2 separate regions of the Homo sapiens genome follow, and region 2 is linked to region 1. Evidence: fine-mapped expression QTL. A gene starts in region 1. The other region holds a variant in brackets. All regions are shown on one strand. Distances are from middle to middle.

Region 1 (8,000 bases):
GAATGCTATACATCCAAAAGCACAGTTTCAGGAAGTGTTGCAATGAATTAAAAAAATTTTTGTTTTTAATTATTTTCCTTAACATTTGAGATATAGCTGATATGCAATAAAGTGCAGAAATACCAAGTGTATAGCTTGATGAATTTTCACAGTGAACAAAGTCTTGTAACTAGCAGACAGATTGAGATGGAGACTATTTCCAGCACCCCAGAAGGCTTCTTTATGTCCTTTTCCAGTCAGGAGACCTCTCCCCATGCCAATCTCTATTCTGACCTCTATCACTATACCATAATTTTGCTTGTCATTGAACTGCATAGAAATGTAGAAACTGAATCATACAAAAGTTACTCTTTTGTGTCTGGCTTCTTTCATCCACATATCTGTGATTCATCAATGTTGTGTGTAGTAGTGGTTTATTCTTTTTCAAATGGCTGTGTAGTACTTCATTGTATAATTATACTGTGCTTTCTTTATTCATGCTACTGCTGATAGACTTTTGGGTTGTTTCTAGTTTTGAGCTACTATATTTTGATTTCATTATGAGATGGGGTATCCCTATTATCCCTATTACCCCTGTTGCCCAGGCTGGTTTTTTTTTTTTTTTTTTTTTTTTTTTTTTTTTTTGAGATGGAGTCTTGCTCTGTCACCCAGGCTGGAGTGCAGTGGCACGATCTCGGCTCACTGCAAACTCTGCCTTCCAAATTCAAGCGATTCTCCTGCCTCAGCCTCCTGAGTAGCTGGGGTTATAGGTGTCCACCACCACAATTGGCTTTTTTTTTTTTTTTTTTTGTAGTTTTAGTATAGAGAGAGTTTCACCATGTTAGCCAGTCTGGTCTCGAACTCCTGACCTCAAGTGATCCACCTGCCTTGGCCTCCCAAAGTGCTGGGATTACAGACCTGAGCCACTGTGCCTGGCCCCAGGCTAGTCTTGAACACCGGGGCTCAAGCGATCTTCCCACCTCCACTAGGATTAGTAGCTAGGATTACAGGCGTGCGCTGCCATGGGTGGCTTTGAGCAACTACAGATAAAGCTGCTGTGGACCTACTAGTACATGACTTTTGATGGATATAAAGGTTCATTTCTGTTGGGTTTATGCCCAGGAATGGAATTGCTGGGTCATAGGGCATGACTATGACTATTATTATTTTTTAAATTTAGGGATCTATTAATGCCTCTACTGTACAAGGATGAATAAATGTGCATGTGTGGGTGTTTGCCTAGTGGAAACTAAAACTGTGGACATGCCCTACATATCTATCATCTACCAAGTAAAAATTGGTGAAAAATTCTTAGTCTTTAGGTAAAAGTCTGGATATTTCTGCAGTTCATAATTAGACAAGCAAGAAACTCTGGTGAGAAACTGGAAAGCACTGAAGAGACATCTCCTCCCTTTTCTTCCATATTGTTTTCAAATGCGATCTAGTGAAGATTTCGTGCTTGGTGTCTTCAATTATAGCAATGCTCATTAGGAGTGATGTACACTACTGCCTGTGGGCCCTTTCCCACAAAGTGGCTCAAGTTCAAGGTCAGGTTGGTGAGAGGCTATGATTGAGTCTGCCCAGAGTTTAGGGTAAGCCATTCCATATAATTGTCAAGACCCTCGTGTAGAATGGAAACATTCCTGTCTTCTCCAGAAAAACTGGGAGTTCTAGAAAAAGCAGACAGAAGGATTTGATTTGGGAGGGGTAGTAAAGGAAGCGGAAAACCTCTAAAGACAGATTTGTGAAACAAACCGTTTGATTCTTCTGAATTGCACTGCACATTAGGCCCCAACAGAGGGGCCTCAAGCAATTCTGCCAGTGGCTGGGGTTTCCCCTTCCATTCCCTTTTCCTTGTAAGGAAGTTTAAAGCTTGCAGGAGGCAGATAGGGGTCTTGGGCTTTCTGGGTACTCAGCTTGTGTGGGAGTATGCCAGTATCAGGGACAGTTTCCTGGGCCCCTTGCAGACCATAGGGAGAGGACTGCAGGGCAGGGAGACTGGCATCTCCACACAGGCGTCTGTATTCTTGGGGTCCAGAACTCCCGCAGCTGGTTTCTGGCAGTCAGCCAGGCTTGGCTTCCTCAGACTTCTTTAGATCCCAAAAAAGGGGGAAAGTGCCTCTCTTCTTTCTCTTTTCTGACTGACACTTCAGGATTTTACAAGATTTTGTCCCATCCGCTCTGTCAGCTTCTCTCTTTCCCTCTTTGTGTTGCTGTCCCTGAGTCTCATCTCTCCCTCTCCCCGTCCCTCCCTCAAGTCCTGTGGGTCTCCGTCCCTCCGTATGTCTTTACTTAAAGGGAAATCCAGACCCTTCCACAGGCCACTCTAGAGGCTCCATTTCCCCTTCAGGTCCGGAAGTGGAGTGTCCTGGGTTCCATCCAGATCGCATGTCTTCTACGTCTACGTTCGTGTCTCCCGCCTCTTCCCTCAGCCTCACCCGAATCAGGGCCTCCAGAGCATTCTGGGCAGTAGCGAGTCCCTGGGTAAGGGGCGTCCAGGGCACCTCCCTGGGGCCCGGAGCAGCTCATTCCAGGACATCTGGGACAGGAAGGGTACCGGGAATGAACTGGGGTGCTAGTACCCAGGACCCAAAGCCAGGGGCTGCCAGAAATACCTATTAACCCCCATTTCCCAGCCTCCTCTTACACAGGCGCATTCCCGGGTTCTCCTCTGAGGCCGGGAGCGGCCTCCCAGCCCCACCCCCGACTCCCCTTCCCCCCCAGGAGATGGACACTTTATAGAGAGAGCTTTTTATTCTCTCGTTAAACCTGTCAAAGCGCAGGAGACAGAAAGCTAGGGAGGGAGAGGAGGAGAAGGAGGTGGGGCCCGGCTCCTCGTCCCCTCTTCCTCCGCCCACCACGCCTCCCCTCCCCCCGGACGTGTAAATGAGACTCTGCAAACTGGAAAGCAGCGAAAGGACACCTCCTTCCTTTTCTCTCTTGTTGTTTTTAAGTGGAATGAGAGAGAGAGGAGTGGAGAGGGAAAAGAAGAGAGAGAGGGAGAAGAGAGAGAGGAGAGAAAGAGCGAGAGAGCGAGAGAGAGAGACAGAGACAGAGAGAGAGAGAGAGAGAGAGAGAGAGAGAAAGAGAGAGAGAGAGAGAGAGAATAAGCTGGGGTAAAGTATTTTCGCAGTTTCTGCCTTTAGGATTTTATTAGCTTCTCTCCCCCAGGCCGCAGCCAATCAGCGCGCGTGCCCGGGCCCCTGCGTCTCTTGCGTCAAGACGGCCGTGCTGAGCGAATGCAGGCGACTTGCGAGCTGGGAGCGATTTAAAACGCTTTGGATTCCCCCGGCCTGGGTGGGGAGAGCGAGCTGGGTGCCCCCTAGATTCCCCGCCCCCGCACCTCATGAGCCGACCCTCGGCTCCATGGAGCCCGGCAATTATGCCACCTTGGATGGAGCCAAGGATATCGAAGGCTTGCTGGGAGCGGGAGGGGGGCGGAATCTGGTCGCCCACTCCCCTCTGACCAGCCACCCAGCGGCGCCTACGCTGATGCCTGCTGTCAACTATGCCCCCTTGGATCTGCCAGGCTCGGCGGAGCCGCCAAAGCAATGCCACCCATGCCCTGGGGTGCCCCAGGGGACGTCCCCAGCTCCCGTGCCTTATGGTTACTTTGGAGGCGGGTACTACTCCTGCCGAGTGTCCCGGAGCTCGCTGAAACCCTGTGCCCAGGCAGCCACCCTGGCCGCGTACCCCGCGGAGACTCCCACGGCCGGGGAAGAGTACCCCAGCCGCCCCACTGAGTTTGCCTTCTATCCGGGATATCCGGGAACCTACCAGCCTATGGCCAGTTACCTGGACGTGTCTGTGGTGCAGACTCTGGGTGCTCCTGGAGAACCGCGACATGACTCCCTGTTGCCTGTGGACAGTTACCAGTCTTGGGCTCTCGCTGGTGGCTGGAACAGCCAGATGTGTTGCCAGGGAGAACAGAACCCACCAGGTCCCTTTTGGAAGGCAGCATTTGCAGGTACCTCTATTACCCTGGGTCCCCTTGTCTCTGAGCCTGGGGTTGTGGGTCCCAATGGCATTTCCCTGGGAGGAGGAGGAGGGAGACTTGGAGCTGGTGAGGATGAGCTTGGTGCTCCTCCCTTGGTTATTAGGACTCTGAAGGAGGTCTGAGTAGCTGGAGGGCCTGGATGGAGGTCAGTGTGAGGGGCCTGAGCTGGGTGCTATCTGAAGCCTGAAGGCCACCTCACTTCTCCAGGAGGCCCTGGGACCAGCCTTTCAACATGTCTGAGAGGTTTAGATCTCTTTGCTGTTGAGTGGGGATCAGGGTGTCCCTACCCAGCACAATTCCAAACTAATTCTACACAAAAGCTAAATAACTCTCAATTCGGTGCGTGGGGAGTGGGTGTGGGAGATGGGTAAAAAGGTATTGGATGTACTGTAGAGAATACAACCTCTCACTTTCTATTAGATGAGTTTTCCAATTTCCAAAGAAAAATTTAGGTTTCCTGCAGCCGTGACATATGTGTGTGCACTGGGATGGGTTAATGTGTGTGTGTGTGTGTGTATGCGCATGTATTGGGAGTGGGGGCAGAAACGTGTTTCCAGAATTTGCCTGTAGAATCTAAAAGAGTGGCCAAGAGTCTGGAAATGCATGAAGACTGGACGTATGTGATGGTGGGCAAAGGCCTGACTGTGTGTGGTGTGTGGGTATGTTTGCAGATTCGCGGGTGTGAGAGCAGTGATGGGTGAGGGTGGCCTTCAGGAGCCAAGGCTGAGCGGTGGTGAGAGAACAAGCCGGAAGCCAGGGTGCTGTCCTGGTATGCTTTGGAGGAACAGGATTGCACGTGCGCCTGTAGGGTGACCTGTGTGCACCTGTGAGATGACTTAGCTTGGGGCTTGCAAGGCCTGGGTCTGCATGGGTGGGTATCTGACCATGCCTTTTCCTCCCTCCCTTTCACGCCGCGCAGACTCCAGCGGGCAGCACCCTCCTGACGCCTGCGCCTTTCGTCGCGGCCGCAAGAAACGCATTCCGTACAGCAAGGGGCAGTTGCGGGAGCTGGAGCGGGAGTATGCGGCTAACAAGTTCATCACCAAGGACAAGAGGCGCAAGATCTCGGCAGCCACCAGCCTCTCGGAGCGCCAGATTACCATCTGGTTTCAGAACCGCCGGGTCAAAGAGAAGAAGGTTCTCGCCAAGGTGAAGAACAGCGCTACCCCTTAAGAGATCTCCTTGCCTGGGTGGGAGGAGCGAAAGTGGGGGTGTCCTGGGGAGACCAGGAACCTGCCAAGCCCAGGCTGGGGCCAAGGACTCTGCTGAGAGGCCCCTAGAGACAACACCCTTCCCAGGCCACTGGCTGCTGGACTGTTCCTCAGGAGCGGCCTGGGTACCCAGTATGTGCAGGGAGACGGAACCCCATGTGACAGCCCACTCCACCAGGGTTCCCAAAGAACCTGGCCCAGTCATAATCATTCATCCTGACAGTGGCAATAATCACGATAACCAGTACTAGCTGCCATGATCGTTAGCCTCATATTTTCTATCTAGAGCTCTGTAGAGCACTTTAGAAACCGCTTTCATGAATTGAGCTAATTATGAATAAATTTGGAAGGCGATCCCTTTGCAGGGAAGCTTTCTCTCAGACCCCCTTCCATTACACCTCTCACCCTGGTAACAGCAGGAAGACTGAGGAGAGGGGAACGGGCAGATTCGTTGTGTGGCTGTGATGTCCGTTTAGCATTTTTCTCAGCTGACAGCTGGGTAGGTGGACAATTGTAGAGGCTGTCTCTTCCTCCCTCCTTGTCCACCCCATAGGGTGTACCCACTGGTCTTGGAAGCACCCATCCTTAATACGATGATTTTTCTGTCGTGTGAAAATGAAGCCAGCAGGCTGCCCCTAGTCAGTCCTTCCTTCCAGAGAAAAAGAGATTTGAGAAAGTGCCTGGGTAATTCACCATTAATTTCCTCCCCCAAACTCTCTGAGTCTTCCCTTAATATTTCTGGTGGTTCTGACCAAAGCAGGTCATGGTTTGTTGAGCATTTGGGATCCCAGTGAAGTAGATGTTTGTAGCCTTGCATACTTAGCCCTTCCCAGGCACAAACGGAGTGGCAGAGTGGTGCCAACCCTGTTTTCCCAGTCCACGTAGACAGATTCACAGTGCGGAATTCTGGAAGCTGGAGACAGACGGGCTCTTTGCAGAGCCGGGACTCTGAGAGGGACATGAGGGCCTCTGCCTCTGTGTTCATTCTCTGATGTCCTGTACCTGGGCTCAGTGCCCGGTGGGACTCATCTCCTGGCCGCGCAGCAAAGCCAGCGGGTTCGTGCTGGTCCTTCCTGCACCTTAGGCTGGGGGTGGGGGGCCTGCCGGCGCATTCTCCACGATTGAGCGCACAGGCCTGAAGTCTGGACAACCCGCAGAACCGAAGCTCCGAGCAGCGGGTCGGTGGCGAGTAGTGGGGTCGGTGGCGAGCAGTTGGTGGTGGGCCGCGGCCGCCACTACCTCGAGGACATTTCCCTCCCGGAGCCAGCTCTCCTAGAAACCCCGCGGCGGCCGCCGCAGCCAAGTGTTTATGGCCCGCGGTCGGGTGGGATCCTAGCCCTGTCTCCTCTCCTGGGAAGGAGTGAGGGTGGGACGTGACTTAGACACCTACAAATCTATTTACCAAAGAGGAGCCCGGGACTGAGGGAAAAGGCCAAAGAGTGTGAGTGCATGCGGACTGGGGGTTCAGGGGAAGAGGACGAGGAGGAGGAAGATGAGGTCGATTTCCTGATTTAAAAAATCGTCCAAGCCCCGTGGTCCAGCTTAAGGTCCTCGGTTACATGCGCCGCTCAGAGCAGGTCACTTTCTGCCTTCCACGTCCTCCTTCAAGGAAGCCCCATGTGGGTAGCTTTCAATATCGCAGGTTCTTACTCCTCTGCCTCTATAAGCTCAAACCCACCAACGATCGGGCAAGTAAACCCCCTCCCTCGCCGACTTCGGAACTGGCGAGAGTTCAGCGCAGATGGGCCTGTGGGGAGGGGGCAAGATAGATGAGGGGGAGCGGCATGGTGCGGGGTGACCCCTTGGAGAGAGGAAAAAGGCCACAAGAGGGGCTGCCACCGCCACTAACGGAGATGGCCCTGGTAGAGACCTTTGGGGGTCTGGAACCTCTGGACTCCCCATGCTCTAACTCCCACACTCTGCTATCAGAAACTTAAACTTGAGGATTTTCTCTGTTTTTCACTCGCAATAAATTCAGAGCAAACAAAAGATGTGGAATCTTAGAGATTTATTCCACTGGTGTGTTAGGACCATTAAAAAGACGTGGGCGCCCCCTTCCGACAGAGGCTCACCACTCCAGGAGAACCTGCGGGCAGGCTTTCATCGTCCGCGGAGCTACAGGCTTCCAGCGGCCTGGGGCCTCGTGGGTACTGAGCTGCGTGTGGGGGTCCAGGACCCGATGTCGCCTGCCATTCGGCCAGGGCATCGGCAGATGTATTGGTCCAGCCCCCGAGAGACCCAGGAAGAAGGCAAGGAGGTTCGGTACGAGCCATCTCGAATGGAAGAAGAAGGCGGTCGGTCTGCGGGAGCCAGGCCGCAGAGCCATCCGCCTTCTGTCCATGTCTTCTTTATCTTCCTCGCCATAATAATTAGTGGTGTGGACCCCCCCACACACACTTTTTTTCGGATTTACTTGTATGGAACCTGTGCAAAAAATATTTAATTTCGTTTTGTATTAAACGCTTTCATTGGGAATCCCTTCCCAATTTTAGTCTCCCACCTATCCCTGGACGACCACATTGAAATCTCTCACTTATTTGTGTTTAAATCACAACAAAATCTACAAACCTATATTCGCCTGCAGATATTTATTTTTACATAAGGGCTATGTTAAGCTACAGGAGGAAATGTTTTGCTTACCATTCGGACAAACGTGTGAACACAATGTCACAATAGGTGAATCCAGACAATGAGCTCACAGACGAATAAACGCAGAGGCACACACATATACTCCGGAAAATAAGCAGGGCGCCTTTTCACTAACAAGGCGCAATTGTACCCTGAGCTGCCCTCCAGACCGTTCCCCTCCCTCA
Region 2 (8,833 bases), 25 kb after region 1:
TGGGCTCAAGCAAACCTCCTACCTCAGCCTCCCATGTAGCTGGAACTACAGGCACACACCACCACACCATGCCCAGCTAATTTTTTATTTTTTGTAGAGACAGGGTCTCACTGTGTCGCCCAGGCTGGTCTCGATCTCCTGGACACAAGTGATCCTCCTGCTTCGGCCTCCCAAAGTGCTGGGATTACAGGGAGGAGCCACCATGCCTGGCCGACTTTACTTATTTAAAGACATTCAGCCCTCTATCGCATGGCTGAATGTAGATGAGCCTGTTGGGCTTTGTCACTAGACGGTCTTCAGATCCTTGAATACGGGGATTGTGATTGTGTCTTGTTCACCAGTGTATGTTCTGCAGTGCCCAGCAGGCACATAGCACATGGTAATCACTCCATAAACACCCATTAATAAAATCATGTTTTTATTATCAAGTGAAAAAAAAGTGCAGAATGGGATTATGGTAGTCTATCTTTTGTGTAGTAAGGGGGAAAATAGGAATATATTATCACAATAATTTTCATTTGCATAAAGACACTCTGGAAGGACACAGGAGAAACTAATCACAATGGTTTCCCCTAAGCACAACGGTGAGACCAGGAGAGGTGGAGACAGTGTGAGAGAAAGATCTTTTTACTTTATATATTTTTATAGTTTCTTAAAAGCATGTGAATGTATTTATTTTAAAAATAAAAAAGATAGCTGAAGTGGTTTAGACATCAGGGCTATTTTTGATGCTGTCCTGGACTTGTGACATGGCAATATCCACAAAATGTCATTAGCCTATCAACTTTATGGCAGGTGGCAGGGCTGCCCCTGCATAAGGTGATAAAACTCTGCTTGATATATGGAAGGCCAGGCAGGGGGTGGGAAGAGAGGGAGGGAGAGAAACAGAAGGGAAAGGTTGGGGTGAGAGAACAGAGTGAAATATGGGGAGAAATAAAGAGAAGCGAGAGACTGGAAAAAAGATGGAGACAAGAGAGGGAAAAAGGAGAAAATCAGATTTAAGAAGATCAAAAAAAGAAGACAGAATAAAAGAGAAAGCATGTACCTGAGAAAGGCTTGGAGGGAAACTCCAAAATCAGGTCACTTCCAAAAAAACTCACACACTGGGTGAGACAAGCCTAACCCACCAGAGGCCTGCTAGACTGTGAGATGAGGATGAGGCTCCACATTGAGGGAGCAGAGTGTCATCAAACACATGGTTCCAGCTGCCCTGCCGGATGTGGGGCAGGCCCTCCCCAGTACTGCCTCTACAGCATGAAGCAACAGAGAGAGGCAGGGTCCTCTGGGCTTCCATGGATCTTCTCAGGACCCAATCCCAATTTATCTTCGGGAGTTGATTTCCCAAGGGCAGGTACCCTTGGCAGCCTGAATCATGTGACCTCCGGGGATAGTGTAGTCCATTAGAAACACATCTGTCCTGCTACTGGTAGTGGGGGTGCTTGCCAGAAGACCACCCCTGGCTTCGAGTTCCTTCCTTAACAACTCTGGGGAGGTGTGGCTGGTACAGTCTTGGCTCCAGAATCTCCCTTCCTGGGTGGAGAGGGTTTTGAAAAGGAAGAGAGAGGGCTAGGGCAGGAGTTAAAGTTGGTGATGGGAGAAATCTGGCCTTAAGGATGGATGTTCAGTTCCAGAAAAGATGAGGCTCTCTGCTCCCCACTATGGACAGTTTCCATTCAATTGGCAGAACATCTGCAAAAGAGGAATTCAACAGCATCTTGTTAAAAGGGGTTTAAAAAAAAAGTTGCATTCTGACTTTTGCCCAGGATGCCCTCCCTAAATAAAACCAGCTAGAAAGTTCCCTTCTGTTACCCACCACCTGGGTGCCTGGCTTCTATCCCCTTCTTTTATATATTTCTCTCAGTGAAAGTCCTGTCCTCAGGCTACACACTGGACTTTGGGTGGAGGGGACATTTATTTCCTAGGGATTTTGAAGCCTTTCCACTCCTCCCTTTGGAGAGGACAGAGAGAGTTGCCTGGCTGCTAATGGGAGAATGGGGACCCCAAAATCCTCTGAAAGCAAGTAAGATCGTGTGTTCCTCCATTTAAATCTTATGCAGTTTATACCTCCTTGAGCTTTTAAGAATAACAGACACGAGTCTTCTACGACCGTACACTTCTCAGCTTCGTCTTTAGAGGCTTTGGTTCTTCTCTATGTGTGTCCTTACTGAGGTTGACTCCGCAGATTGTCTCCACTCTAGACCACTAGGATGCTGATCAGATTCATGTTTTATCTGATCTCTCCCTTGACCTCCAAGCTCTTATTTCCTGCAGTCCTGAAACTTCCTTTCACCCTTCCTGTCCTGCCCTTGGTCTCCTCGGAGGTCTGCTGGGGAGGTGCTCTCCTCTGAGGAAGGAAGGCTTCTCAATGGTTAAGATAACTTTTCTTTAAAGATATACCCGATCTGCCTTTGCGGACCCAGCTGTCAAGGGCTGCACCGTGCCTGGATATGAGCTGTATTTGCCGAGATGTAGCATGAAGGTGAGTTGGGGAGGATGTGGGGGCAGCGTGAGGAGGAAGCAGGAATGGAGGAGCAGGAGACTCTAGATGAACACCCTAGATTTGATTTCTGTCTCTGCCCCAGGCCTCTGACCAGTTGGATCCAACATCTGGATGTAAGCTGATAAAAAGAAATGAAAAAAGGAGCTCATAATCCAGACATTTGGTTTGCATGCCAGTGAACATCTGGACACCGGAAAATATCTGGTTTGGGAACTATGATTTTCAGTTTCCTTCAAATTTTTGGAAACCCGTAGTCATATTGGATTGCCTGAAGAACTTAAACACGTCTTTAACTCTTGAACATCTTTAGAGGATCATTATCAAGCTAATTCATACTTTTCAAGGCTTCACAGCAGGTAAAGGAAAAATCCACAGTCCAAGAGATTCAGATCACTGAGTGTGGCTGGGGAAGACATGATCTCTATTTACTTCAGAGGACAAAGAGAATTCTCTAGAGAGCATTCTTCCCCTTCTCTCCCCACCCCCACCACTCAGGATATGTATTGGAACAACCTCTCCTTTGTCCATCTGGCAAATGAAATCCCAGACAGACTGGTGCTTGGATACCATGGCGGCGATGAAGCCTGAGCTCGTTGACTTTAATAAGCTCTGCTTTATTGGCAATCCAGTAACCACCTAAGGAGCTGGTCCAGGAAATGAGGCAGGATCCAGGCCACTCTGGGCTCCGCGCAGCCTTCTTTTTCCAGGAAACTGCTTGTCTTGGCTTTGGAGTGGCTTTCCCAGCCCATCTCTGACCTGACGCAGAACATAATCATTAGCTCCCTTGCCCAAATCTTCGGTTCTGCTGTAACAGCATGATTCTTCTCCTCCTCTGGGAGGAGGCCATGGTGGGATAGAGATGACCTTGTCCAAATGGTCTTGGGAAGTTTGGGCCCAGCCGGAAGATGCTAAGAAGGTCTGACTCTGATGGGCAACATCTTCCGAAATGCCAGTTGAATGGCTCTGTAGAGGCC[C/T]GCAGCTTCTTAGTTCTCTCTCCTACTAATTCCTCTCAGAATCCTCAGAACAACCGATGACATTGTTATAATTTTTCTCATTTTGCAGGCAAAGAGACTGGGGCTCAGGGAAGTCACACACAATCGGCCTAAAGTCACGTAGCTATTTAGCACTAGAATTGGGGTCTGAACCCAGACTGCCTGATTTGAAGTCTTCTGCTCTCCATTCTACCCTGAGGTGCACAATATTCACTATAGAGACAGGACCAGCCTTCATGAGGCAGCAGTCAATACCTAAATGCGAGAGGAAAAAGAGAAGTGAGTTGGGGTAGTCATGGGAGGCTTTCATGAGGAGGTGCTACTTGGGCCTCAAAGGAAAAGCAGGATTTGGCTAGAGGAAGGGGAAGGCATTTCAGCCAGTGAATGGCATGAGCAAAAAATGTAGGCAAAAAGGGGCATGGCCAGTTCACAGCCCAACAGGAGAGTGGGTTGCCTAACTGGTATTCTCTTTTTTTATGCTTAATTGGTATTATTGCCTAATTGATATTCTTCTTTAATACTTGAGTTTTATTTGAAATGCTCCTTTTCTATAAAATCTTCTAAATATTTAACAAATAATTTGGAACTTTCGACAGCATTCTAAATATAAACTTTTAAATACTCCTTCTAAACAACAATATTCTTTCTAAAAATGAAAATGTGTATGAAATAGATTTTTTCCAAGCCAGAACAGATATTCCCTTGCTTGAAATGCTATTTCTTTTCAATTATTGGTATTCTGATTCCAAATAATAACCAGAAATGGGAGGAACTGAAAAATCCACAAATGGGCCCCATAGAAAAGAGTTGGCCTTTGGCTACATCTGGAGAGCTCCAACACCTGATTAAAACTATAACAGACACAGGATCTTTTCTTGCCCTGTATTTCTCCTTGATCTCTCTCACTTCAACACTAGCGGAGCCAGATGCAATACAGAAAATAAAGGGGAGCTGCCTGCAGTAGTCCCAGCTACTCATGAAGCTGAGGCAAGAGGATCGCTTGAGCCCAGGAGTTGAGTCTAGCCTGGGCAATGTAGCGAGACTCTAGCTCTAAAAATAAATAAAAAAGAAAAAGGGAGACAGGGGAGAAGAAAAGAGTAAGGAGGGGAAATAGCAAAGAAGCTAACCAAGACCCCCAAGAGCCCCTCTTTCTACCATAGATATAGATAGGCCCTGAGATAAGTCCAAGTTTGGGAGGGCAAAAGATTAGATTGGACAAGAGTTCAGAGGATTGATGTTAATACGAACAAACACACATGCACATATTTATAACTGAAAGGGATTGAAAAGGCTATGAATCTGCCTGAAATTTCATCTAGAAGAATGAAGCCACAGGCCCGATTGAAAGGGATAGTCGTGAGAAAGAATGAAATTGCTTTCTGCTTGCCCTCTTGTGAGTTTGGCTTGTTTAAAATCAGAGAGGCAGAGAATTCCACTCCAGGAATACAGAGGAGCTGTACTTCTCCCTATTCCTCCTCCTAAATACAGCTAAGAACTCTGGACATTGTCTATAAAACAGACATTAGAAGACTAGGAAAGATACAAAGATGGCAGACAGGCTATGGACCTGGGCTGAGGAAAACATGGTGGTGCATTCTCTCGATTTTATTACGGTGTCATATATCCAAGGCTTGGAGCAGCAACCTAGAAATGCCAATGGGTTCAGACGGGAGGAGAAGAATAAGAAGGAGAAAGAGGAGCCTGAAAAAAAGCCTGCTCTCACTAGACAAAGGACTAGGAAAGGGACAGCCCAGCAAGACAGAAAACTTTGAAGACAATAACAGTTCCGCGCCAATCAAACGCTACAGAAAAAAACTGGTCCCACTCACACCAGCAAAGGTTGAGGGAGAAGCTGAGACTTTCACGCTTTTGAAGGCGAAGCTGTAACAAGGCCCCCCGGCACCTCTACTGGGTGGTGTCAGAGGAGGCCATGTAGAGATCAGGGACTTTTATCCTTGCAGGCCTGTACCCATGTCCCTGGGTCCCACCCCCACCTCCTCAGTGTCAACCTGTGTCAGTGGAGACTACATCGGAAACCTACTCTTCACCTAGAAGCAACGAGATGTCCTTCTCCCTTTCCACTAGAGTAGAGACCTAGTAAAGAGGCAGGACTTTCACCATTACGTAGTAGTAACAAGCCTATCCCCACCATGATATCAGCAGAAACCATGTGGGGAGGCAGAACGCCCACCCCTGACCAGCAGTAATGAGAAACACCCACTCCTTGAAGTGTCAATGGAGGCCAAGTGGAGAAGCTGGACTTCTACCACCACTTGGCAATAAAGAAGTAACAGTCCCCCACCCTTCCTCTGTAGGAGCAGTTTCAGAGAAAACCAGCTAAGACTGAAGACTTAAATAAGATCCAGAGCCTATAAAATAATATGAGATATCTAGGTATCAACTGAAAATCACTCATGTTACCAAGAATCAGAAAAATCTCAAACTGATTTTAAAAAGACAATCAACAATACAAAGATACCAGATGTTAACATTATCTGACAAAGATTTTAAAGCAGCCATCAGAGAGATGCTTCAACAAATAATTAAGAACACATTTGAAACAAAGCAAAAAAAATAGAAAGTATTAGTAAAGAAACAGAAAATATAAAGAAGAGCTAAATGGAATGTTTAAACCTGAAAAACATAATAACCGAAGTAAAAAAACCTCAGTAAATGGACTAAACAGTAGAATGGAGGGGACAGAGGAAAGAACAAGTGAACCTGAAAATAGAATAATTAAAAATCACCCAATCTGAGAAACAGAGAGAAAACAGTTTGAAGAAAATGAAAAAAGCCACAGGGACCTGTGGAACTAGATGAAAAGATCTAAAATTCATGTCATCAGAATCCTGGAAGAAATGAGAAAGAGGGCACAGCTAAAAAAAGTACTCAAAAAGTAATGGCTGGCGGAGCGCAGTGGCTCACGCCTATAATCCCAGCACTTTGGGAGGCTGAGGTGGGTGGATCATTTGAGGTCAGGAGTTTGAGACCAGCCTAGCCAACATGGTGAAACCCCGTCTCTAATAAAAATGCAAAAATTAGCCAGGTGTGGTGGCAGGTGCCTGTAGTCCCAGTTGTTCAGGAAGCTGAGGCTGGAGAATCGCTTGAATCCAGGAGGCAGGGGTTGCAGTGAGCCGAGATCGCGCCATCGCACTCCAGTCTGGGTGGCAGAGCAAGGCACCATCTCAAAAAGAAAAAAAAAAAATAGAAAAAAGTAATGGCTTAAAACTCCCCAAATTTGGCAAAAAAGAGCCCCATTAGCCTACAGATTCAATAAGCTGAGTGAACAAGATAACACATCAAAACAGGATAAACTCAAGAAATACCAAGATATATTAAAGCCAAATTTCTAAATATTAAAGGCAGGCCGGGCATGATGGCTCATGTCTGTAATCCCAGTAATTTGGAAGGCTGAGGCAAGAGGATCATTTGAGTCCAGGAGTTCAAGACCAGTCTGGATAACAGTGAGACCCTGTTTCTATAAAATTTAAAACATTTTTTTAAAAAAAGTAAAGGCAAAGAAAACTCTTGAAAGCAGCAAGACGGAAATGAACCTTACCTGTAGAGAAAAATAATTCAAACAACAGCAAATTTTTTAAAAGAAACCATGGGGGTCAGAAGGAAATAGCCAATATTTTCAAGTGCTGAAAGAAAAAAAAAATAGTCAACCCAGAATTCTATTGCCTGTGAAATTATATTTCAGGAATAAAGGGTAAAGCACAATAAATTTCTCTAAAAAGAAAGAAAACAAACATCAGGAAGGGAGAAAGAACACAGTGAGCAAAGACATGGTTAAATATAAAACACTTTTCTTCTTCTTTTTTTTTATTATACTTTAAGTTTTGGGGTACATGTGCAGAATGTGCAGGTTTGTTACATAGGTATATACATGCCATGGTGATTTGCTGCACCCATCAACCCGTCATCTACATTAAGTATTTCTCCTAATGCTATCCCTCCCCCAGCCCCCCACCCCACAACAGACCCTGGTGTGTGATTGCCCCTCCCCATCCACGTATTCTCATTGTTCAAAAACACTTTTCTTCTTCTTCTTCCCCATCCCTTCCTTTCCCCTTCCGCCTCCTCCTCCTCCTCCCCCTTCCTCCTCCTTCTCTTCTTCCTCCTCCTCCTCCTCAATACAGGGTCTCACTCTGCCACCCAGACTAGAGGGCAGTGGCACAATCTTGGATCACTGCAACCTCCATCTCCCAGGTTCAAGCTATTCTCATGCCTCAGTCTCCTGAGTAGCTGGGATTACAGGTGCCCACCACCACACCTGGCTAATTTTTGTATTTTTAGTAGAGATGGGGTTTCACCATGTTAGGCAGGATGGTCTCGATCTCCTGACCTCGTGATCTGCCCGCCTCGGCCTCCCAAAGTGCTGGGATTACAGGTGTGAGCCACCATGCCCAGCCTCCTTTTCTTCTTTTTCTTTTCTTTTTTTTAGACTGAGTCTTGTTCTATCACCCAGGCTGGACTGCAGTGGCAGGATCTTGGCTCACTGCAACCTCTACCTCCCAAGTTCAAACGATCCTCGTGCCCCAGTCTCCTGAGTAGCTGGGACTATAGGCGCCCACCACCGTGCCTGGCTAATTTTTTTGTATTTTTAGTAGAGACGGGATTTTGCCATGTTGGCCAGGCTAGTCTTCAACTCCTGATCTCAAGTGGTCTGCCTGCCTTGGCCTCCCAAAGTGCAGGGATTACAGGCATGAGCCACCTCATCTGGCCTCCTTTTCTTCTTGAGTTTTCTTTCTTTCTTTTCTTTCTTTTTCTTTTCTTTTCTTCTTTTTTTTTTTTTTGAGACAGAGTCTCACTCTCTAGCCAGGCTGGAGTGCAGTGGTGTGATCTTGGCTCACTGCAACTCTGCCTCCCGGGTTCAAGTTATTCTCCTGCCTCAGCCTCCCAGGTAGCTGGGACCACAGGCGTGCGCCACCATGCCCAGCTGTTTTTGTATTTTAGTAGAGACGGGGTTTCACCATGTTGGCCAGGATGGTCTCGATCTCCTGACCTCGTGATCCACCCACCCTGGCCTCCCAAAGTGCTGGGACTACAGGCATGAGACACTGCACCTGGCCCCTTCTTGAGTTTTCTAAATTATTTTTGATAGTTGAAGCAAAAATTACAATACAGTCTGTTGTGGTTCTAAAAATATGCAGAGGAAATATTTAAGGCAATCATATTATAAATGGAGGCTGGCAAAGGGATGTAAAGAGAAGTAATATTTCTTTTTTTTTCTTTTTGAGGCAGGGTCTCAGTCTGTTGCCCAGGCTGGAGTGTAATGGCATGATAATGGCTCACTGCAGTCTCGACTTTCTAGACTTAAGTGATCCTCCCACCACAG

Alleles and levels. Positions count from the first base shown, and alleles are read on the strand shown. Sizes are in standard deviations (SD) of each study's normalised expression.
In carriers of allele T in region 2, the expression in sun-exposed skin of the gene that starts at base 3,189 in region 1 tends to be lower than with C alone (small effect, 0.28 SD a copy in GTEx).

The links. PIP is the estimated chance that this variant, and not a neighbour inherited with it, causes the effect.
Region 2: its variant is fine-mapped to the expression of HOXB13 in sun-exposed skin (GTEx, PIP 0.98).

What each region holds. Positions count from the first base shown.
Region 1 is chr17:48,723,939-48,731,938 of GRCh38, reverse strand. HOXB13 (homeobox B13) reads left to right here and starts at 3,189. Exons shown (of 2, transcript NM_006361.6): 1 at 3,189-3,946; 2 at 4,896-7,176. The coding sequence starts at 3,346. The coding sequence ends at 5,149. It overlaps PRAC2 (PRAC2 small nuclear protein), which reads right to left. Exons shown (of 2, transcript NM_001282275.2): 2 at 7,181-7,611. The coding sequence starts at 7,528. The coding sequence ends at 7,256. It overlaps MIR3185 (microRNA 3185), which reads left to right and starts at 7,464; the gene lies at 7,464-7,531.
Region 2 is chr17:48,698,915-48,707,747 of GRCh38, reverse strand. LINC02086 (long intergenic non-protein coding RNA 2086) reads right to left here. Exons shown (of 8, transcript NR_189645.1): 6 at 7,052-7,136; 7 at 2,398-3,747; 8 at 402-1,689. Among named protein-coding and RNA genes, the nearest start is that of PRAC1, 19 kb to the left of the region's middle. The variant C/T (reference allele first, on the strand shown) is at 3,475.